Linked DNA regions of Homo sapiens: all the other regions are linked to region 2. The links come from fine-mapping of genetic effects on gene expression. A gene starts in region 2. Each other region holds a variant in brackets. All regions are shown on one strand. Distances are from middle to middle.

Region 1 (10,193 bases), 740 kb after region 2:
GTTAGAGGATAGAAAAATGAGTTAACTACTGGATCATACAACCGAAAGAAGAAATCCAAATAGCCAAATGAAATGCCTAATCCCATTACTAATGAGGGAAATGCAAATCAAAGACATAATAAGCCCACACTACACATATTTGACAAAGATGAAAAATCCTAAAATCAAAAATATTCAAGAATAGGAGGCAATAGGAATGCTCAGACACAGTGGGTGGGGCTAAAACTGGGGGAAACACTTTGTAAAGCAAAGAGTAGCATTATTCATTGAAGTTCAAGATACAAATAACCAATGATGCGACATTTTCACTTCTGTAAGAGAGAAAGTCATGTGCACATGCACCAAATAAAGGTACAAGAATATTCATAGCTACATCACTCATAATTGTCATAAACTGGAAATAATGCAAATGTCTGTAAGTACTAAACGGTATCGTTAAATAGCGGAATACTTACTGTACGACAGGGGTTCCCAACCCTCAGGCCAGGGACCAATAACTGTTTGCAGACTGTTAGGGACCTCGCCACACAGCAGGAAGTGAGCACGAGCGAGCATTACTGGCCTGGGCTCCGTCTCCTGTCATATCAGCATCGGCATTACATTCTCATAGGAAGGCTGGGTGAGGTGGCTCACGCCTGTAATCCCAACACTTTGGGAGACCCAGGCAGGTGGATCACTTGAGGTCAAGAGTTCGAGACCAGCCTGGGCTATATAGTGAAACCCCGTTTCTACTAAAACTACAAAAATTAGCCAGGCATGGAGGCATGTGCCTGTAATCCCAGTTACTCAGGAGGCTGAGGCTGGAGAATAGCTTGAACCTGAGAGGTGGAGGATGCAGTGAGCTGAGATGGCATCACTGCACTCTAGCCTGGGCAACAGAGTGAGGCTCTGTCTTAAAAATAAATAAATAAATAAATAAATAAATAAATAAATAAATAAATATGTAAATAAATAAAATTCTCATAGGAGAATCAACTGTGCATACAAGGGATCTAGGTTGTGTGCTCCTTATGAGAATCTAAAGCCTGATGATTTGAGGTGGAACGGAACAGTTTTATTCTGGAACCACCTTCCCCTACCCCATTCCATCCATGGAAAAACTGTCTTCCACAAGAGAAACCCATCCCTAGTGCCAAAATGGTTGGGGACTGCTGCTACATGACATGGAAAATGAACAAACTATAGCTATGCCCAAAAATTAGTGATGCTTACAAACACAACGTTGAGTGAAATGAGCAAGACATAAAATCATGCATAAAGTTACAGTATAACTTTGCTCATGTAAATTTCAAAAACTAACAAAACTAAGCCCTACTGTTAAGGGAGGATAAGTGGTAAAATTACAAAGAAAAGCAGGAAATATATTACAATAAGTTTAGATGGTTTTTGTTTTTCCTGAGAGAAAGGGAAGGAACTGTGGTCTTGATTGAGTTATTTGAGGGAGTGTAAAGGGGAGATTGGGGATGCTCATATATCATCTCCCTGGCCTGAGTTGCTGGTGCCTGTATGTTGCATTACTCTCATTTGTTATCCTTTTTGGTGCGCTTTTCATAAATGTTTTATTTTACAACAACAACAAAAAAGTTTAGAATAAACAAAAAGTTTTCACATATGCCAACGATTTAAGTCATAAAATATTACAGTTAAGTCTAGACCTTCATTACTGGTCAGGATATTCATTTGTAAATAACAGGATTGGCTCTAATTAGTGTAAGCAGGATAGAATTTTTCATGGTAGACAGCTCAGAGGGTCATTGAAACAGCTGAAGAAACAGACTCTAAGCTGAACTTGCAGAACCACACAACAGAACTGAACCCACAAAGAAGCTACTGCCATCAGGGAACTCCTGTATCAAAAGCCACCACTGCAGCGACAGACACCAGGACCTCACTGCTTCTGCTGTGACTGACACTAGGAAGATGGATGCCCCTGCCTCTGTTCAAATCAGTCTCTCACACAAGGGCATCTGATTAGCCACACAGAAATCACATCTGCACCCTAACATAAGACAGGCTGGGGAAAATAAGATTGTTGCTGTGTATTTGTTTGTTTTTAAGACTTTACTTTTCTTTATAGGAGTTTTAGGTTCACAGCAAAATTAAGAGGAAGGAACAGGGATTTCCCATATCCTCCCCGTCCCCCTCCACATACAGCCTCCCTCATTATCAGCATCCCCCAGCAGCATGGTGCATTTATTATAATGGATAAACCTACACTGACACATCGTTATCACCCAAAGTCCATAGTTTACATTGGAGTTCATTCTTGGTGTTGTATGTCCTACGGGTCTGGGCAAATTTATAATGCCATGTATCCACCATCGTAGTATCATACAGAGTAATTTCATGGCCCTAAAAATACCCTGTGCTCCACCTATTCAACCCTCCCTATCCCCAGACCTTGGCCACCACTGATCATTTTACTATCTCTATAGTTTTGCCATATCCAGAATGTCATGCAGTCAGATCACAGAGTATGTAGCCTTAGATAGGCTTCCTTCACTTAGTAATATGCATTTAAGGTTCCTTCATATCTTTTCATGGCTCAATGGCTTGTTTCTTTTCAGCACTGAATAATAGTCCATTCTCTGGATGTACCACAGTTTATGTATCCATAAACTGTGTATCCAAAACTACTGAAGGGCATACTGGTTGCTTCCAAGCTTTGGCAACTATGAATAAAGCTGTTATAAACACTCATGTGCAGGTTTTTGTGTGGACATAAGTTTTCTTCTCCTTCGGGTAAATACCAAGGAGCATGATGGCTGCATCATATGGTAAGAGTATATTTAGTTTTATAAGAAACTGCCAAACTGTCTTCCAAAGTGGCTGTACTATTTGCATTCCCACCAGCAATGAATGAGAGTTCCTATTGCTCCACATCCTCACCAGCATTTGGTGTTGTCAGTGTTTTGGATTTTGGTCATTCTAATAGCAGGGGTCTCAACCCTTTTTGGCACCAGGGATTGGTTTCGTGAAAGACAATTTTTCCAGGAATGGGGTAGGAGGATGGTTTCGGGATGAAACTGTTCCACCTCAGGTCAATTAGATTCTCATAAGGAGCTCACAACCTAGATCCCTCGCATGCACAGTTCACACACAATAGGGTCTGTGCTCCTATGAGAATCTAATGTCGCTGCTGATCTGACAGGAGGTGAAGCTCAGGTGGTAAATCTCCCTTATCTGCCACTCACCTTCCACTGTGCGGCTGGATCCTAACAGGCCACAGACTCCTACTGGTCCATGGCCTGGGAGTCAGGGACCCCTGCTAATAGGTGTGTAGTGATATCTCATTGTTTTAATCTGCATTTCCCAGATTCCTGAATGACATATGATGGGGAACATCTGTTCCATCCACTTATTGGCCATCTGTATATTTTCTTTGGTGAGGTGTCTTTTAAGGTCTTTGACCCTGTTTTGTGCTTGTTTGTTTTTGCTTTTTCTTTTTAATTCTATCCAGATAAGGCAAGATTTATACCATGGAATACTATCAAGACAGGATGCTCAAAATACTACGGGCAGCCATGAGGGCAGATATTCTCAGCACAGACTATGTAATTTAGTCTTGTTATTTCACAGGTTGATGAAATGTTACTGGATAAATAAAATAACTTAGCTGTCTACAGGAAAGCACATATGTTGTAGGGCACATCAAGAAAACTGATTTTAAGTTCTGGCCCTGCACTTATTAGGTGAATTACTTACCTCTCAGTGCCTTGGTTTGCTCAGCTATAGCTGATGGCATGATGCTATAGTAAACTCATAGTACAGCTATGAGAATTAAATAAGATAATATGTGTGAAATAGCCTGATGTAGTGTGTGCTCATTTAATTTCCGTTTGCTGCTGTCTGCTTCAGAAATTTTCCAAGAAGCTCATTGTATTTTTATTTTCTGTCTTGCCAAACATACCTTTTCTTAAAAATGCTAGTCCATTAGAAATACAGAGAGGACTGAATTCATATGTGATTTTTAGAACAAGTGTCTGCTTTCTCCCTCCAAAATTCCAAGAAATTACCAAAAAAGCACTTTTAAATAATAAATTCATAAAAACCCAAGGACGTGTGGGGTGGGAGGGATGTTGGAGTAACCCCCACATTACAGGAAATGACTGCTGCAGAGGAAAGAGTAGGTTTGAGTTCCAAACCCAAACTAAAGAAAGACAAAAAGTTGCAGGTTTCTGGTGTATTCTCGAGTTAAAGAATTGGGAAATTACACTCAGAGAAACCAGATAAAAAAAGGAAGGACACATACAAAGTGTTCAGAGCTCCACAGAGATGGGGGAAAATTTTTAAAATTATAAAAGAACTCTATGTAAAATTTATACCACTAATTTTGAAAATCCATTCCAAGTGAATGACTTCCTGAGAAAATATAACTTACTGAAATTGACTCAAGAAGAGGTAGAAAGCATGAGTAGACAAATAACCATTGAAAATATTGGAAATGCTGTCAAAAACCTACTCAAAATGAAGTATCAGTGAAAGCAATTTGGAAATAGCTACTAAAATTAAAAAAAAGCATACATTGCAACTCAGAAATCCCACTCTTC[G/A]GAGTTTATCAAATAGAAATAAAAGGACCAGTACCATAGGATATGTGTTAACTTTGTTAATGCAGAATCATTTGTAAAAGAAAAATTAAGGAGGAGACAAAGTGAATGCCCTACCACAGAAAATTACACCTTTGAAAAGTGAGCTAGATCTTTATCAGCTAATTTGAAACAATTTACAGAATGTATTGATAATAAGAAAAGCAGGACACAGCAGAGTACATGCATGTGTATTCTGATTTTTACAAAATAATAATCAGAATAAATATTTCTATGAACGAGTGAAAGATGTGTGTGTGAAATTATATATGTGCATGCAAGTTTGTATAATTTTATAAGTGTAGAGAAGGCTGCAGAAAGTAACACTGACCTGTAAGCATTGATTATAAAGTGGAGTTTGGGGAATGAGTTGGAAGGGAACATGAAGGAAAGAGTTTAGCAAAAAAGAAAGAAGGAATGAAACAGAGAAAGAAAAAAGCGAGAGAGAGAAAAAGAACGAAAGAAAGAAAGAGAAAGAAGAAAGAGAAAGAGGAAAGAAAGAAAAAGACAGAAAGAAAAGAAGGAAGAAAAAGAAAGACAGAAAAGAGAAAGAAAGAAAGAAAGAAAGAAAGAAAGAAAGAAAGAAAGAAAGAAAGAAAGGAAGGAAGGAAGGAAGGAAGAAAGAAAAAGAAAGAAAGAAAGAGAAAGAAATTCATGTAAATTAAGGAATCTATGACAAATTAAGGATTCCAGGACAAAATGCTTTCACGCTATGAGTACTTCTATGTAGAATTATATATGTGTATGTTTGAGTATGCACGTATATGTGTGTGTTATATGTATTCATAAGTGTAAAAAGTAAAAATACCAACAAGGCGTAAATTAAAAAAATGATACCAACCCAGGCATTTGACAGATAGTCCTGTCAAACCTTTAAGACACAATAGAAAGCCCTAAAACTAAAAAGCTAGAAAGCGTCTCAGTTCTTTCTGTGAATCCCTGTACAAACACGATAAACACCCCAGTAAAAAACTACAGCCTCGTCTCACTTAGGGACACAGAAGCAAACTATAAGCCAATCATACGCAGAAGTGTATAAAAGAAAAATATATCATGACCACATAGGGCTCATTCAAACAATGTAAGGTTTCAGTTACAGCATGTAAAGACCTTAGACAACCCATCACTCCCATCCTTCCAACAACAGAAAAGTTGAACAAACTGATAATCAATGTCTTTTCTTAGATCCTTCAGAGAGCTGAAGCCACAAGGCAAACTGCCACCTTATAATTAGGAGAGACAGTTGATGAATCCAGAGAGTTAAGAGTCAAGATCTACCCACCTGGAGAAGAAGCTCCTGGAGGCATACACTGATAGGAACACTTAAATGGTAATTCTGACAAATTATCATTTAAAAGAAGAACTACTGTGGACTAACATGAGAGTGAGCAACTCCTAAGGCCCCCAGACTTAGGGAGTCTCTGATTCTCTGACATCAACTGGGTGTTTAACAACACAATTCAATTCTGACACCAACTACTCAAAGCACAGACCCAACAGGTCAAGTCCAACAAAACTGTGTCCTACTTCGGATGCTGGCTGCAAATGTGGTGTCAAGTTTACCCACATTCCTGCCCACCCAACTATGAATTCAGGAGTTCCCATGACCACCCCTCAGGCTTGATCATTTGCTAGCTAGAATGGCTCACAGAACTCAGGAAGGCACTTTACTTAATATTACTAGTTTATTTTAAAGAATACGACTCAGGAATAGCCAAATGGAAGAGTAGCATTAGGTAAGGCATGGGGGTTGAAAGATGGCATAGAGCAAGCTTGTCCAACCCATGGTTCAGGACTGCTTTGAATGCAGCCCAACACAAATTCATAAACATTCTTAAAACATTTTGAGATTTCTTTGTGTGATTTTTTTTAGCTCATTATCTGTTGTTAGTGTTAGTGTATTTTATGTATGGCCCAAGACAATTCTTCTTCTTCCATTGTGGCCCAGGAAGTCAAAAGATTGGACACCGCTGGTGTAAAGCTTCCATGTCCTCTCTGGACATAGCATTCTCCTGGCACATTAATATGTCACCAACCCAAAAGCTCCCCAAACCCCACTATCATTTAGGGATTTTGTTATGCAGGTTTCTTAATGCAGGCATAACTGATGAAATCATTGTCCACTAGTGACTGAACTCAGTCTCCCAGCCCCTTTCCCCTCCCTGAAGGTTGGAGGGTGGGGATGAAAGTTCAGCCTCCTAATCATAGCTTAATCTTTCTGGTGACCCCAGTCTTGAAGCTATCTAGGAGCCCCCTGCCTGGAGTAATCTCATTAGCATACAAAAGACAGTAAATTCCAAAGGTTTTAGGAGTTCTGTGCCAAAACACAGACCAAATATTTATATTTTTATTATACCACAGGGCATCCACCACAATTTAGTCAGCTTTACGTCCAGAAACTCTACTAGCTTTTCCCCGTGAAAAGCAGAGGAAGGTCCCTTGTGGCTCTGGTGGGGAATTGGAGAGAACAGACCTATCCAGGGTGGAAAACACCCAGGTATGCCCAGAGCATTCTCCATAACAAAGGGCTACTCTCCAGGGAATAAGACTTTACCAGAGCCTTATCCAGCTGGGGAAAGGGCATTCTCTCATTCCAGGCCCCTCTATCCTTTCTGTCCCACCTAAGGGAGGGAAGAAAGTTTAAAAAAACACTACTAAGCTCTCAGCCCAGGCAGTCAAGCCCACTAAAGGACTGAAACTTAACTATAAGATTAAAGAAAGTGAAAACCAAAAATAAAATACTAAGCCCCCACAAACGACTAAACATACACACACAAACACACACAGCCCCTTGGTGAAGAGCAGCCCAGAGTAACCTGAAAAACTAAATTCCAAGACATTATGGGAAGGGAGGTCAGACATAACTTGTTACACTCCTCTTGCCTTTCGGAGTTTAGTCACAACTGACCAGCACTAACATTAAAATAGTGATTATAAGACTGACAAAACAGACTCCTTGCCAATAAGATACCAAATTCCAATCTGACTCTGGTATAGCATCACATAACAGATAGCAAACTCTGAAGGAAATCAAAATATTTTACTCTAAAACATATTTCTTTGACATATTTTGAAATGGCCCTGCAAAGCCATCTTTATGGGAGAAAATTTGCATTTGTAGAGAATCTCTATTAATGCAGCCAGGCCTTTCCTAAATCTAGGAGAAATTACCTAAGAGTCTGACACCTTTAAAGTCCAAAAGGAGACATTTACCACCTATTCTCTCTGAAGTCTGCTATGTGGGGGCTTCATCTACATAACAAGAACTTTGACTTCCACACCCATCCCCCTTTTCTGAACTCAAGAATTTTTTTCTACCATCTTCAAGTCCTAGCTTAACTCTTTCAACCAACTGCCAATCAGAAAATCTTTCAATCCACCCATCAATCAAAAAACGTTTGAAATCCTCCTATGACCTATTGGTTCCCCACCACCCTTTTGACCCATTTGAGAGATCCCACCTTCCCAGACTGAGCAAATGTGTACCTTACATGTATTGATTTATGTCTTTACCTGTATTTCTATCTCCCCAAAATATATAAAGCCAAGCTGTAACTCAACCACCTCGGACACATTTTCTGAGGACCTCCTGAGATTGTTCCCCAGGCCAACTGACAGCCCAGGATGGCTTTGAATGTGGCCCAACACAAATTTGTAAACTTTCACTCATATTGGCTCAGAATAAACCTCTTTAAATATTTTACAGTTTGCATTTTCTTTTTTTTTTTTTGTCAACAAACACCTCGCCTCCCTTACCACCACACCAAGGGCTCCAGTAAAATAACAGTGGATTATAACGGAAAGAGCCACAAGAAGTAGTCTCTTTCTGAGAAAGAGTATTTAAGGAAATTTAAAGTCAACAGGAGAGGCAAAAATGTCAGAGGCGTTTGAACCAGAGCAACTCTGTCTTGTAGATGGGCTGGTTACATAAGGCTGAGACCTACTGGGCTGCATTCCCAGGAGGTTAGGCATTCTAAGTCACAGGATGAGATAGGAGGTCGGCACAGGATACAGGTCACAAAGACCTTGCTGATAAAACAGATGGCAATACAGAAGGCAACCAAAACTCACCAAAACCAAGATGGTGATGAAAGTGACCTCGGGTCATCCTCACTGCTCATTATATGCTAATTACAATTCATTAGCATGCTTAAAGTCACTCCCACTGGCACGATGACAGTTTACAAATGCCATGACAATGTCAGGAAGTTACTCTATATGGTCTAAAAAGGAAAGGAACCCTCAGTTCCAGGAAGTAGCCACGCTTGTTGGTAAGTGCCTGTCGTCCCAGCTACTCGGGAGGCTCAGTCAGTGAGCTATCATTATGCCACTGCAGTGAGCTATCATTGTGCCACTGCACTCCAACCTTGGCAACAAAGACCCTGTCTCAAAAAAAAAAGACATGGAGTGGCTAAACAGATGGACAAAAAAGAAATCCATACAACCTACAAAGCCTGAATCATAAAGAAATAGAAAATCTCAATAGACCAATATCAAATAGGGAGATCAAATCAGTAATCAAATACCTCTCAACAATGATAAGTTAGCTACACTGGTGAATTCTACTAACATTTCAAGAAGAATTAACATAAATCCTTCTCACACTTTTTCAAGAACTTGAAGAGGAGGGAACACTTCTAAACTCATTTTTACAAGACTAGCACCACCCTGATACAAAAGCCAGACAAGAATACTGCAAGAAAAGAAAATTACAGGCCAATATTTCTAATGAACATCAATGCAAAAATCCTAGCAAACCAATTCCTGCAGCAAATTAAAAGAATTATAAACCATGATGAAGTGGGATTTACCCCTGGGATGGTTCAATGTATGCAAATCAATAAATGTGATACATCATATTAACAAAATGCAAGGGCAGAAAAAAGCATTGCATAAAACTCTACATCCTTTCATGATAAAAACTTTCAACAATATAGGTATAGAAGAAATGTACCTTCACATACTAAAGGTCATATATGACAAGTACACAACTAACCTCAAACTCAACAGTGAAAAGCTTAAAGCCTTCCCTCCAAAATCAGGAACAAAATAAGGATGCCACTCTTGCTACTTTTATTCAGCATAATACTAGAAATCCCAGCAAGAGAAATTATGCCAGAGAAAGAAAGAAATTAAACGCATCCAAATTGGAAAAAAAAGAAGTTAAATTGTCTCTGTTTGCAGAGGAATATATATATATATATATACACACACACACACACACTCACAAAGATTTCACCAAAAATCTGTCAGAACTAATGAAAAAATACAGTAAAGTTGCGGGATATGAAATAAACATACGAAAATCAGTTGCATTTCTTTACATGAACAACTCTCTTAAAAAGAAATTAAGAAAACAATTTCATTTACAAAAGCATTTTATAAGGTAAAATACTAAGGTAGAATTTAACCAAGGAGGTGAAAGATCTATACATTGATAATAACGCTGGGGAAAACAGGTTAATCAGCTAAAGTAATTTTACAAGTGTTGAGGCAAGAGCAGGACAGGAGGGAATTGTTAAGAAACAGAAAATCAGAGAAGACTGGTGGAACTAACTTTAAAAACTGGGGCTGACACAACTGAGTATACATTTGGAAATTTTTAAA
Region 2 (10,193 bases):
CCCCTTGGTTTACATGTTGGAGGTGTGAGTCTTTGCAACTTCCTGACAACAAGGCTTCCTAGTTCCCATTTAAAATCAAGTCAGTTTTATAAAGCATTAACATGATGAGATGCATTAAGCTAAAGAGTGCCTTTTAAGAATAATAGCAAATAATTTATAATGGATGCATCAGCTTTAGTAAAAAGTTTTTTTTTGGTGACAAAATAAAATCATACATAAAAGGCAAGTAAGACAGTTTCACTTTAATAGGGTGCCCAAGTGGAGTAAAAAAAAATGTCAAAGCCAAAGTGTTTGTAGGAGTGAAAGATTCTCAAGAGAAAGTAAGATGAGACATCAAACGAATTGGCTTTGGTAGAAGACAGGTCTAGGCTGCAAAAACAACCTGGATAGCTTGCTTGCTTGCTTTCTTGCTTTCTTGCTTGCTTGCTTTCTTGCTTGCTTTCTTTCTTGCTTTCTTTCTTGCTTGCTTGCTTGCTTGCTTGCTTTCCTTCTTTCTTTCTTTCTTTCTTTCTTTCTTTCTTTCTTTCTTTCTTTCTTTCTTTCTTTCTTTCTTTCTTTCTTTCTTTCTTTTTTTTCTTTGAGATGGAGTTTGCTCTTGTTGCTCAGGCTGGAGAGTGCAATTGTGCAGTCTCAGCTCACTGCAACCTCTCCGCTTCCCAGGTTCAAGCAATTCTCCTGCCTCAGGCTCCCGAGTACCTGGGATTACAGGGGTGTGCCACTGTACCCAGCTGATTTTTGTGTTTTTAGTAGAGATGAGGTTTCACCATGTTGGCCAGGCTGGTCTTGAACTCCTGACCTCAGGGCATCCACCCACCTGGGCCTCCCAAAGTGCCGGATTATAGGCGTGAGCCACTGCACCTGGCCCACAATGTGGACAGCTTCTGATTGTGACCCCCAAAATCACGGGTCTTGGTTGAGTCTGTTTCCACATCTGAACTTCAGTTTAGGGATACTGCAGTGTACTTCTGCTGGATTTGCCCCTACAGTATTCCTCTGGGGAAACAACCCTACTCCACTCATCCTCCCACAAGAAGTCACTTCTTGGCCAGGCACGGTGGCTCACGCCTGTAATCTCAGCACTTTGAGAGGCTGAGGCGGGTGGATCACAAGGTCAGGAGTTTGAGACCAGCCTGATCAACATGGTGAAACCCCACCTCTACTAAAAATACAAAAATTAGCCAGGTGTGGTGGCACGCACCTGTAATCCAAGTTACTCAGGAGGCTGAGACAGAAGAATGGCTTGAACCCAGGTGGCAGAGGTTGCAGTGAACCAAGATTGTGCCACTGCACTCCAGCCTGGATGAAAGAGCAAGAGTCCATCTCAAAAAAAAAAAAAAAAAAAATTACTTCTCATATCCCAACTCAGGAGGGCACACAGCTCATGTCTGCCTCACTTTCATTCTGTAAGGGCTAGTGGGTGAGATGGATTGCATCTGTGACATTAATTCTTCACCCTGCTCCCCGCATGCATGCTGTTGCATTCCTCTCACTAAAAAGGAGGAAGCCCGTTTCTCCATCCTTGACACTGGAGTTGCCAATCAGATGCAGTGGAAGTGGGGGTGAGTCACTGTGGTGCTGAGACCTGCCTGGTGAGTTTCCACTGGCTACTGTTGTGCTTTGCTATTGATATCATCCCTACCATCTCCATAGGAGTGACAAAAATTGCATGCTGGGTTCTGGAGAGAAATATAATTCAGCATTCATTAGGCTGCACTCTTACCCATTTCCTTGTTATTAAAGTCACAGCACTAGATACTGACCATTGCATTCCTATCATTCCTATAGACAGGATCTCTGACATGAGAGTCACAGGCTGTTTAAGAATTGATTTGCATACCCATTGTTCCTATAGACAGGATCTCTGGCATTAGAATCATAAGGCTTTTGTTTAAAGATCACTTTAGATGTTTTTCAGGTCCTGAATTCCAGTGGAATAGCTGAAGCCCACCAGTTCGAAGATTCCCAGGGAGGAACCAAATCGACACATGAATACAGCTTCTTTCATCCCCCTGTCCAATGACTTCGCCCTGTACTCTTTGACCAATCAATGAGCTCCACATTTTAGCCTACTCCAAAACCCTTAAAAACGCTTACCCCAAATCCCTCAGAAATGGACTTGAGGTTTCCTCCTATCTTGTTGTTTGGTAGCCTACGATTAAACCTCTTTCTCTGCTGCAACCTGGTGTCTTGGGGTGTTGACTTGCAGAACACATCTGGCAATGGATCTGTTACAGTTATGCATTCACCATGGGAACATGCCTGCTGGAGAAGGAAAAACGTGTGGAGCAGAGCCAACTCACTCCAGTCTCCTCAACCGGTAGCCAACCAACTCCCAGGTATGTGAGCAAGACCATCCAAGATCAGCAAAGCCACCAGTGGGCCCCCAATGACCCCAGCTGCATGAGGAACACATTTATTTTTATATACCACTGAGGCTTTGTTGCTCACTCTTTCTGTGGCAGTAGATAATTGATATAGTTCATGACCACACTTATGGCCAATCAGAGTTAGAACTGAAACTTTTGCTAGAACAATTAGCACAGAGACATTTATTTTTCTACTGATACTTTTGTGCTGAAAAGCTCTAAGCCTAGAGCAGCTGGAAGATGCCATGTCACCTTGGAGAAAGGGTGTCTGAGACTGATGCCAACACAGAAGAGTAGAAATTTACAAATAAGAAGGAAGAATTCTAACAATGTTTTTTTGAGTTCCAGGGTCAAGCCATTCCTGTAACAACTAAACTAGACTTTTCACTTAAATGAACTGAATGCTACCTTATGTTTCTTGCTACAGTCAACTTACGTTGGATTTTTAACCCCAGGTTATCATAGAGTCCTGATCAGTAGATGTATTTTCAATGTAGAGTATTGTGAAAAGTAATGAGTTATAAATGTGCCTCCATTGGAAAGTCAAGAGTCTAGAAAAACACGGCTGTTTTTCTGAATTCCAGGTAGTAAAAAAAACAAGTGTTTCTATCCTTTCTTGTGCATTTTACTTTCTAGAGTGCCAGAGGCTTGCGTAAGTAAGTTTGCACCTTGCTGAGCTGTTAAGAGGCTGTGATGACAGTTGCCCCCACAAGATTTCACCAGTACCTGGAAATAAGTATGACTCACTCCTGACTCAGTTTTGGTGACCACGAGGGCACAGCAATTCTGAGAAAGACTGGGCCAGGTTGTTCTTCTACGTCAGTGATTTAACTCATGCCATAGATGGTAGAAACCAACCATTTCAGACCTGAAGGAGATGGCAAAGATGAGATCATCAAAGACTCATGGTTTCCTGTGGAGATAACCAGAGGCAGAGGGGCGGAGGCAGTGCTGGTGGAGTCTGGCATCCCATGCAGGACTAAGAAGATGGGCTTTGCGGGCAGAGAGATGGAGGTTTGAACCTAAGCGTTGTTATCTATAAATGTAGCCACTGTGGGCAAGTCATTTAACCTTGCTGGGCCTCCATTTCCACTTTTGTAAAGTAGGGGTACAGTACCACACAAGAATGAAAGATCATTATATATATATGTGTGTGTGTGTGTGTGTGTATATATATATATATATTTATTTATTTATTTTTTGAGGCAGGGTCTTGCAGTGTCACCCAGACTAGAGTGCAGTGGCACAATCATGGCTCACTGCAGCGTCCAACTCCTGGGCTCAAGCAATCCTCCTGCCTCAGCCTCCTGAGTAGCTGGGATGACAGTCACATGTCACCATGCCCAGATAATTTTAAATTTTTTTAGTAGAGATGGGGTCTCATTATGTTGCCCAGACAGGTCTCAAACTCCTGGCCTTGAGCAATCCTTCCAAAGCTTCCCCAAATGCTGGGATTGCAGGCATGAGCCCCAGCATCCGGCCAGTTGCTGCTTACATTTAATATGTGTAGGCACTCCCACTCTGGGAGGAGCTACTTAATCTTCCTCATCACCTCCCACGTCCCACAAAAAGTGGGCTTGACTTAGTGGTTTGCTTCCAAAGAATAAAGTATGAGAAGGGAAAATACACTAATTAGAAAGTGGAGGCTGGGCATGGTGGCTCACGCCTGTAATCCCAGCACTTTGGGAGGCCGAGGTGGGTGGGTCACAGGTCAGGAGTTGGAGACCAGCCTGATCAACATGGTGAAACCCAGTCTCTACTAAAAATACAAAAATTAGCCAGGCGTGGTTGCACATGCCTGTAATCCCAGCTACTCAGGAGGCTGAGGCAGGAGAATCGCTTGAACCTGGGAGGTGGAGGTTGCAGTGAGCCGAGATAGCACCATTGCACTCCAGCCTGGGTGACAGAGTGAGATCCCATCTCAAAATAAAAAAAAAAAAAGCAAGTGGCGAAACCTGGCAAATGCTACCCAAGTGATGAATGCCAACCTCACTGAGGAAGCCTGGTGGCTCTCATGCAGCCTTGGATAAGATGTGAAGAGGGGCCGGGCGCGGTGGCTCACGCCTGTAATCCCAGCACTTTGGGAGGCCGAGGCGGGTGGATCATGAGGTCAGGAGATCGAGACCATCCTGGCTAACAAGGTGAAACCCCGTCTCTACTAAAAAAAAATACAAAAAATTAGCCGGGCGCGGTGGCGGGCGCCTGTAGTCCCAGCTACTCGGGAGGCTGAGGCAGGAGAATGGCGTGAACCCGGGAAGCGGAGCTTGCAGTGAGCCGAGATTGCGCCACTGCAGTCCGCAGTCCGGCCTGGGCGACAGAGCGAGACTCCGTCTTAAAAAAAAAAAAAAAAAAAAAAAAAAAAAAAAAAAAAAGATGTGAAGAGGAAGATGCTTCAGTTTTGTGGTGTTCTTCCCCCAAACCCAAACTCCAGTCTACTCATGAGAAGTCCACCAGAGAAACCCAGAGTGGAGGACATTCTACAAAATACCTGGCCAGTATCCCCACTAGGACTTCCAGGGTCATGAAAACCAAGGAAAGACTGAGAAATGGACACATCAGAGGAGACTGGGGAGATGCTACAACTAAATGCAATGTGATACCTTGGATCAGATGGTGGAACAGAAAGAGGACATACATGGAAAGACAGATGAAATTGTAATTAAGTCCAGAATTTAGTTAATAATAATGTAAGAATGTTGGTTTTTCAGTTGTGACAAATTTACTCAGGTTATGTGAGATGTTAACAAGAGGAGAAAATGGCTGGGCAAAACTACTGGCTCATGCCTGTCATCTGATAAAGGAAAAACTTCAGCCAAGTGCTGTGGCCCACGCCTGTAATCCCAGCACTTTGGGAGGCCAAGGTGGGCGGATCACCTGAGGTCAGTAGTTTGAGACCTGACCTTTGCACTCCAGCCTGGCCAACATGGTGAAATCTCGTCTCTACTGAAAATATAAAAAATTAGCCAGGCATGGTTGTGGACACCTGTAATCCCAGCTACTCGGGAGCTGAGGCAGGAGAATTGCTTGAACTGGGAGGCGGAGGTTGCAGTGAGCTGAGATCATGCCATTGCACTCTAGCCCAGGCGACAGTGTGAGACTCGATCTGAAGGAAAAAAAAAAAAAGAAAAACTTCAGGCAAATTGAATGTAAAGGAGTTTAGTTGAGCAATGAACGATTCAGGGATCGGATATCCCCCAGAATCACAGCTGATTCAAAGAGACTCCAGCACAGCCATGTAGTGGAAGATTTATAGACAAAAAAAGAGGGCCAGGCGCGGTGGCTCACGCCTCTAATCCCAGCACTTTGGGAGGCTGAGGCGGGTGGATCAAGAGGTCAGGAGATCGAGACCATCCTGGCTAACACGGTGAAACCACACATCTACTAAAAATACAAAAAATCAGCCGGGCGTTGTGGCAGGCGCCTGTAGTCCCAGCTACTCAGGAGGCTGAGGCAGGAGAATGGCGTGAACCCGGGAGGCAGAGCTTGCAGTGAGCAGAGATCATGCCACTACACTCCAGCCTGGGAAACAGAGCAAGACTCTGTCTCAAAAAAAGAAAGTGGGGGGAAATGATGTACACAAATCAGAAGTGAGGTACAGAACAGCTGGATTGGTTACAGGTTGGCGTTTGCCTCATTTGAACACAGCTTCAACACTCATCGGTGTATGAGTGGTTGAAGTATAGCTCCTGGGATTGGCCACGACTCAGCTGTTGTTACAGGTGTGTACTCCTATGTTCGGTTTTCAATTTTGTCTACCTATTAAGTTAGGTTGCAGTTTGTCCACAAGGACTCAAATATAGAAGTACAGAGTCCATATTTAGTTTGTGTTAACAAATCCCAGCACTTTGGGTGGCTGAGGTGGGAGGAATACTTGAGCTCAGGAGTTAGAGACCAGCCTGGGCAACATAGTGAGATCCCATCTCAAGTAAAATTCTCTGGGTCAAATCGTTTCTCCTTAAAAATTTTTTTAACTGGGAAAACTTGGCGAGGGTATATAGGAACCTCCCGAACTATCTTTAAAGCCATTTGATAAATCTAAAATTACTACACAAGAAAGAAATACTTAAAACACAGCTTTCAAAATAAAATATTGAATTGCTTTTGATTTAATCTTAGTTTAGTTGTGGGCATCAGTTTCATTTTTTACCCACAAGGTCCCCAGACTTAGAGATCCAGGAGATGAACTCAAGAGCAGCCCGTTGCCTGCAGTGGCTGACATGAAGCCTTTCTGCGTCATCGGTGTCTTGTCTGATGCTTCCCCAGTGGAATTTCCTGCTGTGTTCCTGGGAAACCCAAGCAACCAGAAGTTCATCCAATTATTTATTTGCTTCGAGTCATCCGGATGTAAAAGTATGCAGCTATCATATACTGGTGAAGGTAGAGAATTATGATGATTGTCATTTATTGAGGACTGTGGTAGGCACGGGGGGTTACATTTTGTGCAAAGTGAGCTAGGGCTGGGGGTTTCTCATTCTGAACTTGCAGATGCACAATATCAGGGGAGGATGCTGAAACTAAGAGAGGTTAAGAAACTTGCCCAATATCACAGATGCAGAAAGAGAAAGAGCTTGAAATGGGCTTGAACACAGTTCTTTCTGAATCTGAAGTATATCTTCCTAACCCCTAAGTCAGACTTTTAACATAGACTGTTAACACTTCAGAGGTTCTTCAGATACCATCTAATACAGAGATCTAATCTCTGTATTAGATGGTATTTGAAGATACTATCCCACCTTCAACTCCCAGATAACTTTAGTTCGGAGCTGCACAATGGGTTTATGGTTGCTTTTTCTTTGATTGTTGCTTCTCTTTCCTTTTTAGATTGAATTTATTGTCAGCATTTGAAAATAGGGAGACTGCACTTTCAAATATCAGACTTTCATGTTGTTCAGAAAGAAATGGGTGCTCTGACTAAAAGGGGGGGCTTCATTCCCACCTGGAGCTGAGTCCTGACTTTCAGTTAGATCAGGTGCACATACTGTTCTCTAGTTCAGACCCCTTCCCTCCCTCACCCCCAGCCCTAGCTCACTTTGCTCCTTTACTTTCTCTACCTGGCCCCTGCAGTTGGCAGCCACTGACTAAGTCCATTTTACTGGAGTGAAAATTGCTGCTTAGAGAGGAGTAGTTACTGGTCAGAAGTCACACAGCAAGCCTAAAGAAACGTCATTCTGGCAGGCACTCATTTATATCGTGAGACAGAGCTATCTGGCTCTCTGACGTCCTGTGTCTCTCTGTCCCTTGCTGTCTCCTCTATGGCTGACCTACTTCAACCTCCTGGTGGGTCACATTCTCTGGGTCAAATCGTTTCTACTTAAGCACCCCAAGAGGGGCTACCCTGCTCGCAGGTTATTTTAACACTTTATATGAAAGCCTTGTTCTTGTCAAATACCTCGAAATGAATAAGGGTTGAACCTTTTCTCTTAGGAGGATGGAAAGCTAGTGGAGACTTTTAAAATTTAACTTCATCTTAGAAGAAAGAGGAGAGAAAGAGAAAAAGAGGGAAAGGGGAGGAAGGAAGAAAGAAAAGAAGGAAGGACAAATCACAAACTGGAGTTTGACATGTCTGTGATATTTATTCCTTTCTTTAGTTAGTTCTCTTTGACTCCCACGGCTGATAACTCTGCTTCATCTTCTTCCAGGAAAGCAGGTAGAGATGTGGTCAGTTCCCACTTCTAGTCTCTAAGCTAGCCATGATTTATGGTGGGACACATAAATGAGACTCCCCAGGAGCCAAGTGCCAAGGCAAAGATTTTGCAGAGAGGATCTCAAAGCATCTATAACCTTAAAAAAAAGATGACTCTTGTCATTTCTTTTTGTGTCATACATAAAGTTGAATAGAGCATGCATTCATAGTTTATGAGCCATTAATAAAATGAACATCTGTGAGTTCACCATCGTTTATAAGAAATATAATTTTAGCTATAGCTTAGTAGCTTTGTGTGTTTCTTTCTAATTCCATCTTGCCCCTTCTCTCTGCAGGATGCTGCTTTCCTGAATTTTGCATTATTTTATTTATTCAGTCATGCAGTCATTCATTTTAATATTTTATGAAAATTATCAAACATGCAGAAAATTAGAAAGGATAGTACTATTGAATATGGTATACCTATAATTGAACAACTGGATTCAACAACTTTTTAATGTTTAGCTTTTATTTGGCCCATATTTTTATTTGCTTAGCCATTGTTTAAGCATTTTATTTTGTAAAATATCAACTATATATTAAAGCAGAGAGACTGGTAAAGTGGATCCATTCCAGCTTCAATATCTTCAATGTGTGGACAATCTCATTTCATTTGTTCTCTCAGTCATTCCATGCCTATTCTTCCCCAGCTCTGGATTCTTTCTGAAGCAAATCCCAGATATTTATCTGTAAATATTTCAGTCTGTCTCTCTGAACGATAAGGACTCTTTTAAAAATACAATCATGACCAGGCGTGGTGACTCACGCCTGTAATTCCAGCACTCTGGGAGGCTGAGGAGGGCAGATCAGGAGGTCAGGAGATCAAGACCATCCTGGCTAACACAGTGAAACCTCATCTCTACTAAAAATACAAAAAATTAGCCAAGCATGGTGGCGGGTGCCTGTAGTTCCAGCTAATTGGAGGCAGGAGAATGGCATGAACCAGGGAGGCGGAGCTTGCAGTAAGCCGAGTTCCAGCCACTGCACTCCAGCCTGGGGGACAGAGCGAGACTCCGTCTTTCTCTCTCTCTCTCTCTCTCTCTCTCTCTCTCTCTCTCTCTCTCTCTCTCTCTCTATATATATATATATATATATATATATATATTTATTTATTTATTTATTTATTTATTTATATAATCATAATGTCACTTTCACATCTGAAATAATGAACACTTTCTGAATATCACCAAATACCTAGTCAGTGTGTAAATTTCTTGATTCCTGCTCTTCCTCTCCCTCTCTCTCTCTCTTTTGTTTTTATAATTGCTGTCTTATAATGGGGATTAAAACAAAAATCTCCACAGTGAATTTGGTTGATAATTGTTTAAGTCCCTGGGTTTTGTCTTCTTGTTTTTCTGTTTGTTATTATTTTGTTTCCCCTAGTGCAATATATTTGTTGAAAAATCTGCATTGTTTCTCCTGTACAATTTCCCCACTTTTGAAATTTTGCAGAGTTAGACTTTTGGTGCTATTTAACATGTTATTCCTTTCCTTTTATCTCCTGTAAACTGGGATTTAGCTATTGAGCCTTCATCAGATCCACATCTGATTTTGGGCCAGAGTATTTTATAAGCAGCGTCCGTGTGGTTCCATTAGGAGGGTCATAATGTCTGGTTGTCTCCTTTTGTGATATTAAGTAGGTTCCGGTGTTGCATCATTTAATCTACCCATTGTAAAGTCCCTGACAGCTTTTAACCTAATAGGTTTTCACAGACAGTCATTCCCCAGGAGTTGGGCTGAATCATTTTAAAGTAAGTTCATATACCAAGCCACTTTATCCTTAAATACTTACAGCACAAATTGCCAAAAAGTAAGGGCATTATCCTTATAACTCAACAGATTTTTCCCATCTAATAATACCTATGCTCTAATATTATTTAACATCCAGTTCACGTTAAAAAAATCTTCCAAGTATCTACATTTGTTCTTGAATAACCTTTTTATTTTAGAATAGTTTTAGAGTTACAGAAATAATTGATAGCATAAGAGGTCTCATATACCACATACCCAGTTTCCCCTATGATGATGATGATGATGATGATGATGATGATGATGATGATTTGAGACAGAGTCTCACTCTGTTGCCCAGGCTGGAGTGCAGTGGCACGATCTCGGCTCACTGCAACCTCCACCTCTCAGGTTCA
Region 3 (10,193 bases), 69 kb before region 2:
AAAGATACTGTGGGTGTCACTCAAGGATCTCACAACCATCTCAGCCTATGCACCCATCAATGGTGGATTGAACACATAAAATGTGGTACGTATATTCTATGGAATACTATACAACCATAAAAAACAAAATCGTGTATTTTTCATCAACATGAATGCAGCTAGAGGCCATTATTCTAAGTGAATTAATGCAGAAACAGAAATGCTACCAGCTTGGACTGAGGCTCAGAGATGAGAGAAAGGCTGTCAGACTTCTGGGATTCTACAGGACAGGACATTAGAGCTATCCAGATGAGAACGTTCTTACCCTTCAAGAAAAGGAAAGAATGACCACAAAGGCAAGGCTGTCTCCTCGTCAGTACCTGGGGGATACCTCTTTGGTTTTATTGGGCCAGGCTTGCTTGGGACCCATGAACCTTTCTTCTTTTTTCCCTTTGGAACCAGAATGTCTATACTATGCCTGTGCCACCATTGTATTTTGGAAGCAGATCACTTTTTTGTTTAATAGGTTCACAGCTGGGCCGTTCACAATAGAAAGACATGGACTCAACCTAAGTTCACATCAGTGGTGGGTTGGATAAATAAAATGTGGTACATATACACCATGGAGTAATATACAGCCATAAAAAGAACAAAATCATGTCTTTTTCAGCAACATGAATGCAACTGGAGGTCATTATTCTAAGCGAATTAATGCAGAAACAGAAAATTGAATACCACATGTTTTCACTTATGAGTGGGAGCTATACCTTGGGTACACATGGACATAAAGCTAGGGAACAATAGACATTAGGGACCCCCCAAAAATGGAAGGAGGAAGTGGGGAAAGGGCTGAAAAACTACCTATTGGGGCTGGACATGGTGGCTCACACTTGTAATCCCAGCTACTCAGGAGGCTGAGGCACAAAAATCACTTGACCCTGGGGGGGTGGAGGTTGCAGTGAGCCGAGATCGTGCCACTGTACTCCAGCCTGGAGGACAGAGCGAGACTCTGTCTCAAAAACAACAACAACAACAAACAAACAAAATAACAAAACAAAAATAACTATTGGATACTATTCTCACTCTCTGGGTGACGGGATCAATGGAAGCCCAAACCTTAGCATCATGCAACATACCCTTGTGACACACCTGCACATGTACCCACCAAATCTAAAATAAAAATGAAAAAGAATAGGTTCACAGCTGGAGAGGAGTTCTGCCTCAGAATGAATCACACCTTGAGTCTCAGCCACATCTGATTTAGATGAGATTTAGATAAGATTTGGAACTTAGAGTTCATGCCAGCACGGGTCAAGACTTGTAGGGTGTGGGGATGAGGGTGAATGTATTTTGCAAGTGAGAAGGATGTGAATTTCGGGAGTCCAGAGGGCAGAGTGTTATGGGTTGAATTGCATTTCCCCAAAATGTATATGTTTAAGCCCTAACTCCAGTACCTCAGAATGTGACTGTATTTGGAGATGAAGTCTTTTTTTTTTTTTTTTAGATGGAGTCTCGCTCTGTCATCAGGCTGGAGTGCAGTGGCACGATCTCGGCTCACTGCAATCTCTGCCTCCCGGTTTCAAGCCATTCTCCTGGCTCAGCCTCCAGAGTAGCTGGGATTACAGGCGTACACCACCACACCCAGCTAATTTTTGTATTTTTAGTAGAGATGGGATTTCACCATGTTGGCCAGGATGGCCTCGATCTCCTGATCTCGTGATCTGCCCGCCTTGGCCTCCCAAAGTGCTGGGATTACAGGTGTGAGCCACTGCACCTGGCCTAGGGTGGGCTTTAATCCAACCTAACTAGTGTCTTTTTAAGAAGATGCAATTTGGACACACACAGAGACATCCATAATGTGTGCACACAGAGCAAAGACCATGTGAAGACATTGAAATGGTGGGCATCTTCTAGCCAATGAGACAGGCTTCAGAAGCAACTAAACATGCTGGCACCTTGACCTTGGACTTCTTGCATCCAGGAATGTGAGAAAGTAAATTTCTCTTGGTTAAGTCAACCAGTCTAGACGTGGTATTTTGTTATGGCAGCCATGGCAAACTAATACACTGCAAAACAGAGGACCTGGTTGAGATCTAGACTTGAACCCTGATTCTGCCCAAGGAGGCTGCTGTCTACAAACAGGAATTTCACTCTCCAGACAGCAGTGACTCCTGGTGAATGCTCCACAATGGGTTTAAAGACTTGACTCCAATGTAGATGCTTCCCCATGGTCTTGGACAGCTAGGCTGGCAGGTCACCCCTCCATATCTGTCCTTGGCAGACTGAGTGGGTTGGAAGAACTAAGCTGGGATGCCTGCCTGCAATGTCCCCACATCTACTCTGCATGACCAACTGGAGGCTGTGTTTAGGACTTCCCAAGACCCCGAGAAAACTGGATTCTACTTGTCTCTATAAAAGAGTAAAAAAATTAGCTGTGCATGGTTGTCACCGAGTATCCCAGCCTCAAAATGCATTTTAAAACTTTTTTGTTTTTCTTTTTTGCTTGCAGCCTCGAAACATACTTTGAAACTCTTTGTTTCTGCCTTTCCCACCAGGCACTTCCGTGAACAGTGCTCACTTATCTAATTATGTGCTTGCTTAGAAATTCCAGGGGCCAATTTTGCAACAAAGGAGGCAGAGAGACCCCGCTGCAGAATTCTCCCTCTTATGGGGAGTTAAAGTTAGCCCACGACTTCCGGGTTGGAGTCAGGATAATGCAAACCAGACCTCCAGATGGTTGATTCCTCAAGATAACACGTGGAAACAAGACATGTAGACCTCCGCCCTCTTGTACCACTCTGATGGGTTTCCCACGCCTTTTCCTTGTTAAACCCCTTCACTCAGCCCAAAAGACTGAGATGTCTTCTTTGAGGTAGAAGTCTGGTTATCTCCCATCTGCTGGCATTTGATTAATAATGTTGCTTTCTTTTCACTGTACCTGGTTTCTCATATTTTCAGCCTCTGAGCAGTGAGCAGCTGGACTTAGGCCAGCTACATGGTGGTGTCTACTTGTAGCCCCAGGTACTCAGGAAGCAAAGGTGGGAGGATCACTTGAGCCCAGGCGGTCGAAGCTGCAGTGAGCTATAACTGCACCCTTACCCTCCAGCCTGGGTGACAGAGTGAGATTCCATCTCTAAAAAACAAAAACAAAAAAAATTTAAAAAAAAGGATTTCATCGGCAACACAAGGGATTTAGATTTGATCTGGAGAAGCCATTTTGAGCAGGAAAAAGGAACATCCCAGATGAACCCTGAAGAGTTTGCAAGCAGCCAAGATGGCCCTGTAGGTGGCAGGGGTCAGGACACGGGTCTTGGCCTCTGGATGCGGAGGGGTAGGTCTCGGCTGCGCTCGATTCTTCAATGGCTCCCCGCTGAGCACAAATTGAGAATTCCTTCTGCTCTGTGGGAACCCTGGAGTGGAGAGATGCACTTTTCAATCACTTTAATTCCATATTGATTATTTAAAAGTGGGCCCTTTCTTTACGGCATCACAGCTGAGCAGTAATTGACTGTGTAAGAGGAAGCCCCCGTGCAGGGCAGTGCTAATAAGACATCGTCTCCTGAAATGTGCCCGGGCAGCAAGAAGCCGGCTGGCTGCTCCTGCAGCTCCCACGGATCTGCCAGGAATCAACAAGCAACTGCAAAGTTCCCACATCGGAGTGTTGGTCTTGTCGCAGTCCACTTGGTAGTGTGATATTATGATTACAGAGTCACAGTAAAATATTTGCATAGCAAACAGCAGCATTTCCCTGCAATCATTAGAGAAAGCGAGGAAGAGCCTGAGAACCTGCCAGCCAGGAGTCTGTTTGGAAGCACTCCTGAGCCATCATTTATCCCGTGCCCAGTGTGTGCTAAGTGCTTGATAAAATAATGATGAAAATAATCTTAATAATAGCCGCTTATATTGAGTGCTTATAGGTTGGCAGGCATTGTCCTAAGCACTTAGCGTGCATTATTTTTTTTCATCCTTACGACAACTTTATTAGCTCCATTTTACGGATACAAAAACTCAGGAACAGAGAAGTGTAGTGACTAGCCAGGATCACACAGCTAGTAAGGAGAAGGGTGGATTTAAATGTAGGCCCATCTGACCCCAGAGCCTTATATCACAGCAGTTGAAATCAGACAAGGGACATTCGTGATGCACTTTACACAGTTAAAATTATAGTGATGACTACAGATTACTGCTTTAGTGACTCTCAACCTTTCCCCTAACAGCCTCCTTCCT[G/C]TTAGATTTTAACACTCCCAAAACACTGTTTGTATAATGTGGCTTTTTGGAGGCCCACACACCATTGTAATATCTGGGGCACAAAAACCACTGTAATATCTGAGGTTTCTTTGCTCCCTGTCGAACATACATGCTGTAGATAAGAATTATAGAGTTTGTTAGGAGGTCTTTGTAAATTCTATGCAATTTGGATATATTCATTAATTTACTCAAGAAGCTTATGTAGTTTTGTTTGTTTGTTTTTGAGATGGAGTGTCGCTCTGTCGCCCAGGCTGGAGTGCAGTGGCACCATCTCGGCTCACTGCAACCTCTGCTTCCCGGGGTCAAGCAATTCTCCTACCTCAGCCTCCCGAGTAGCTGGGATTACAGGCGTGAGCCACCATACCCGGCTAATTTTGGTATTTTTAATAGAGACAGGGTTTCACCATGTTGGCCAGGCTGGTCTCGAACTCCTGACCTCGCAATCCACCTGCCTTGGCCTCCCAAAGTGCTGGGATTACAGGTGTGAGCAACTGTGCCTGGTGGCTTATATAGTTTTTAAGAGGTGAAGGAAGTGAGACATAGAGAGACTAAGTAATTTGCCTGAATTGACACAGCTAGGTAATAAATAGGGCAGGATTTGAACTCAAGCAGTCTGGCTTCTATGTAGAATTCCTTAACCACTGTACCACACCACTGGATTTCTGGTATGGGCTGTTTTCACATATGTAAGATGTTCACACAAACCTCTGAGAGAAGCATAGGCACTTTCCTCCTCCTTGGATATAAGAGGAGACTGAAGCTGAAGAAGAGGAGGGGATAGGCCTGTGGACTTCTGGCTAAGAAGCAGCAGAACCAAGATCTGAATGTGAGTCCTGGTTATGAGACCCCAGGCGTGAATTCCGTGGAGTAGATCAGCTTTCTTCTTTGTCTCTGGGCTGCGCTGTCTCCCAGGCGTTTTGAGGCATGCCACCCTCTGAGCAACAGTCATACCCACAGCCCACACTCTGCAGAGAAAAGTTTCATCTCATTAGTCAAATTAAAACTTACTTCTGAACTTAGTATATCTGTGTGATAGACTTCAAGCAAATTATAATTTTATTTATTTATAGCTCCCTGTCTTCCAGAAACTTAAATGGCAATATGTTATTGGGCTCATAAAAAATAAAAATAAAAAAAAATAAAATGACACCTCGAGCAGTGCTGTAACTAATTAGGGAGACTTCCAAACTGCTGTTAATTTGAGATGCTAAAATGTGCACCAGCAGCAGCCAGCCTGAGTTCCCCGGGAGGACAGACTCACGCAGCTGTGGAGCTCAGATTTCACATTAAGTCAAACAATTATTTTGACGGGTCGAGTGAGCTCTGCAAAGTGCTATTATAATAAAATCCTTCAATTGCCTTGCCCAGGCAGGTGCACCCAACAAGGGAGGTTGGGTGACGTCAGGGAGTTCTCCATAAGCCGGGTGCGAGGCATTATCTCGACTTAGACATGGCAGATGTTTATTGCAGAGCTCAGATATATGGTCTGGAGCTTTGGGTGAAGCTCAGGAATGACAGAAGCAACAAGCCAGGTTTGCATTTTTTAGAACCCACTTTGACTTTTTTTTTTTTTTGTCTGCCAGCATTATTGTTAATTGTTTTTATTTGAAAGAAAAGTTACAAGATAATGTAAATAATTAGAGTTCCCACACACTTATTACCCAGTTTCCGCTAATGCTACCATTTTACATAATCATGGTCATATTTTTATGCCAGATGCTCTTCTGGATACTGAGGGCACATCTGTCAAGAAAAACAGATGTGATCCCTGTTCTCATGGAGCACAGTCTAGCTGGAGGAGACAGCGCTAGGATAAACCCAAGTCCATGGTCACAAGTGCTGACCATGTTGCTGCTACATCTCTCAGATGCCATCAACTTGTGCCTTGATGGCCAGACATGGTGGCTCACGCCTGTAATCCCAGCACTTTGGAAGGCTGAAGTGGGAGGATCGCTTGAGCTCAGGAATTCGAGGCTGCAGTGAACTATAATTATGCCACAGTACTCCAGCCTGGATGATTGAGCGAGACCTGTCTCTTAAAAAATATATACGTTTTGACCAGGCGCGGTGGCTCACGCCTGTAATCTCAGGACTTTGGGAGGCCGAGAGGGGGCAGAGTCAAGAGTTCGAGACCATCGTGGCCAACATGGTGAAATCCCATCTCTACTAAAAATACAAAAATTAGCTGGGCATGGTGGCACGCACCTGTAGTCCCAGCTACTCAGGAGGCTGAGGCTGGAGGATCCCTTGAGTCTAGGAGTTCAAAGCTGCAGTGCGCTATGATTGCACCACTGGACTCCAGCCTGGGTGACAGGGTGAGACCCTGTCCTTAGCCAAACCAAACCAAACCAAACAGTGTCTTGCTCAGTGTGAGGAGCTGATGAGTGGTGGTGCTGGTGTGTGTCCATCTGGATGAGGGCAGTGGCATCCTAACAGCCCTGGGCTTCATGTGTGTCCAGCTGCACCTCTGCTCAACCTGGCAGCCAGAGGGATCCTGTTGAAAATGTACCATCAAATCACGTCCCTCCTCTGTTCTGAACCTTCCACCGCCTCCTCCTCATGCTCAGGCCACAGGAAATCTTATAATCTTGCTTCCTGCTGCTTCTTGTACTTCTTCCCCAGCCACCAACTCTTTTGCTGTTCCTGGGCTGTTCCTGGAACAAGCCACTCATCTCCTGGAAATCTCCATCCCGGGATCTTTGCTTAGCTGGCTCGCTCCCTTTGTTCACATCCAGCCTGCAATGTCACCCACTGAGAAATGTCCTTCCTAACCATCCGATGAAAGCACAAAAGCACAGCACCTTGCTTTTTTTTTTCTTTTTTTTTTTTTTTTTTTTTTACTTCCAAGAACTTTTCACAACCTGAAAAGTTGTGGATTTTATTGTTCTCTTTCTCTGCCTTCAGTGTAAGCATCTCTGTCCCTGATGCCTAACACAGTACTTGGTCCATAGGAGGCATTTAAATAATATTTGTGGGGTGAAAGTTTGTCTCTGTGTCTGAATTCTTCCCTTCTTCTCCCTTCCCTCCCTCCCCATCTTCATTCCTCCGTCCCTCCATCCCATTTTTCCTTCCTTCTTTCCTTCCTTCCTTCCTTCCCTCCTTCCTTCCAGTTCCCCTTTTCTTCTTTCCTTCCTCTTAAGCAGTTGTTTAATGGCCCCCACGTTGGTCCTGACATACACAGAAGGAGCTTTTCCAAATGCTATGGTTGTCTCCTGATGTGTATCCACCAAAGCCTGTTGGCCTCACTGGAGTGAAGTGCCATAGCTCACATGATGTGGGTCGCCACCTCCAACCCCCACCCAATACATTCTCAAAGCAGACACCTCCTAGCCAAGTTTTTTCTTCCTGCTCTCCTTCAGAGACTCAGGCTTTGGTATGAACAGGACAGATGTGCATGTGCTGAGGCCTCTGGTTCACTCACTTCTACTTTCACCTGTCACTTTCTTCTTGGCCTCTGCCAAGAATTTCAGGCCAGGAGAAAAATTCAAGTCAGCCACCTGCTTAATCTGCTCTTCCCCATTCCTTTCAGCACAACACAGGGAAGAGCAGGCTAAGGAAATATGGCAGGATCAGGGGAAGAGAGACCAGTCAGGGCTGATTTCCATGGGTCTTTTATTTGAGGAGATGCCAGCCCTTACGTGGAGAGACCTTGTAGTCCTTTTAGCCTGGAGCTTCCAGGCTGTCTGAACTGCAGAAGAAGAAGGTGCCCATCTGTTGGTCTTCGGCATCCAACCAGTCCTCTCCATCAGATGGTTGCGGAAGACATCTGTATTAGTCTGTTTTGTGAGACCCAAATCAGGAATACAATTCTATTCACAATTGCCACAAAAATAAAATACCTATGAATACAGCTAAGCAAGGAGGTGAAAGATTTCTACAATGAGAATTACAAAACACTTCTCCAAGAAATCAGAGATGACCCAAACAAATGGAAAAGCATTTCATGCTCATGAATAGGAAGACTCAATATTATTAAAACTGCCATACTGCCCAAAACAATTTATAGATTTAATGGTATTTCTATTAAATTACCAATGACAGGCCAGGCGTGGTGGCTCATGCCTGTAATCCCAGTACTTTGGGAGGCTGAGGTGGGCGGATCACGAGGTCAGGAGATCAAGACCATCCTGGCTAACATGGTGAAACCCTGTCTCTACTAAAAAATATTAAAAAATTAGCTTGGCATGGTGGTGGGCACCTGTAGTCCCAGCTACTCGGCAGGCTGAAGCAGGAGAATGCCATGAACCCAGGAGGTGGAGCTTGCAGTGAGCCGAGATCATGCCACTGCATTCCAGCCTGGGTGACAGAGCAAGATTCCGTCTCAAAAAAAAAAAAAAAAAAAGAAAAAAGAAAGAAACAAAAAAAACTACCAATGACAGTCTTCAAAGAACCAGAAAAAAAACCATTTAAAAATTCATGTGAAACCAAAAAAGAGCCTGAAGAGCCAAGGCAATCCTAAACAAAAAGAGCAAACCTCACACTATCTGACTTCAAACTACACTACAGGGCTACAGTAACCAAAACCCCATGGTGTTGACACAAAACAGACACATAGACCAAGGGAACAGAATAGAAAACCCAGAAATAAGGCCACATGCCCACAACCATCTGGTCTTCAACAAAGCTGACAAAAAGAAGCAATGGGAAAAGGACTCCTTATTCCATAAATGGTTTCTGGGATAACTGGCTAGCCATATGCAGAAGATGGAAGCTGGATCCCTTCCTTACACTATATACAAAAATCAACTCAAGATGGGTCAAAGACTTAAGTATAAAACCCCAAACTATAAAAACTCTGGAAGACAATCTAGGCAATACCATTCTGGACATAGGAATGGACAAAGATTTCATGACAAAGAAACCAAAAGCAATAGAAAAAATCCCAAAATTGGCAAATGAAATCTAATTAAACAAAAGAGCTTCTGCACAGCAAAAGAAACTATCAACAGAGTAAACAGACAACCTACAGAATGGGAAAAAAATATTTGCAAACGATACATCTGACAATGGTCTAATAAACAGCATTGATAAAGAACTTAAACAAATCTACAAGAAAAAAAAGGAATACACATTCCAACATGAGATTTGGAAGGGACAAATATCCAAACCATATTGTTCCATCCCTGGACCCCCAGATGGAATGTCCTTTTCACATTGCAAAATCATCTCTTCTCAATAGTCCCCCAGAGTCTTAACCCATTCCAATATAAAGTCCAAATTCCAAAATCTCATCTGAGACTCAAGGGAAATTTCTTCCACTTAGGTCTTATTTTAAAGTAAAATTATGAAATTTGGGTACCTCTTAAAAAATCCATATCTAACAATAGTAGGCCAGATTTCAACTGGAGAAAGAGGAGTTAAAATGGAGTGGAAGCTGTTTCTTTTTAGGGGGTCATTGAATCTTCATTTTGCCATTGAGCTTAGTTAGCTGATCTCAGTTTTTTCTATTATCTGGCTGACTTCTAAAGGTACTTATATGTATGACTTTTCTATACTGTTCCAAATCTAGGAGCAAAGCAGAATGTCCACATGAAAGAATCCAATCGTGTGATACACCACCCTGCAGATAATATACTGCCAAGCTATGATTATCCAGTGCAAGTCTGGTTAACAAGAAAGATTGTGAGGTGGAAAGGGATTTTCTCATTCTTCAGGGCTCCAGGACAGAAATGAGAACAAGTGGTAGAAACCACAAGCAGGAAGAACCTGGTCCATCCTAAAAAGAACTTTCTAATAACGAGATCTAACAGGAGAATTAGGCTGCTTTATCAAGTAGTGAGGCACCTGGCATTGGAGGCATTCAAGTAGAGACTGTGTGATCATCTGTTGAAATAGCTGAAGAAGAGATATCTATTATAAGAGTCAGAGGAGGTGATAGTTTTAAGGAACATTTTAATGATGAAATTCTTGTGTTCTGATTCCATCACTGGAAGACTGAAAGTTAATGTATGGTGTGGTCGTGGTGG

Direction of the effects. Positions count from the first base shown, and alleles are read on the strand shown. Sizes are in standard deviations (SD) of each study's normalised expression. Not every link is listed here.
For the expression in fetal neocortex of the gene that starts at base 6,004 in region 2, allele G in region 1 goes with a lower level than allele A (large effect, 1.2 SD a copy in Walker 2019).

Evidence for each region.
Region 1: its variant is fine-mapped to the expression of LINC02195 in fetal neocortex (Walker 2019, PIP 0.95).
Region 3: its variant is fine-mapped to the expression of LINC02195 in unexposed skin (GTEx, PIP 0.98).

The regions. Positions count from the first base shown.
Region 1 is chr16:25,852,913-25,863,105 of GRCh38, reverse strand. All of the region lies in intron 1 of HS3ST4 (heparan sulfate-glucosamine 3-sulfotransferase 4), which reads right to left. Among named protein-coding and RNA genes, the nearest start is that of HS3ST4, 170 kb to the right of the region's middle. RefSeq lists a silencer at 7,744-8,038. The variant G/A (reference allele first, on the strand shown) is at 4,551.
Region 2 is chr16:26,591,260-26,601,452 of GRCh38, reverse strand. It overlaps LINC02195 (long intergenic non-protein coding RNA 2195), which reads left to right and starts at 6,004. Exons shown (of 3, transcript XR_950950.3): 1 at 6,004-6,085; 2 at 6,521-6,716.
Region 3 is chr16:26,660,716-26,670,908 of GRCh38, reverse strand. No RefSeq gene overlaps it. Among named protein-coding and RNA genes, the nearest start is that of LINC02195, 70 kb to the right of the region's middle. The variant G/C (reference allele first, on the strand shown) is at 4,207.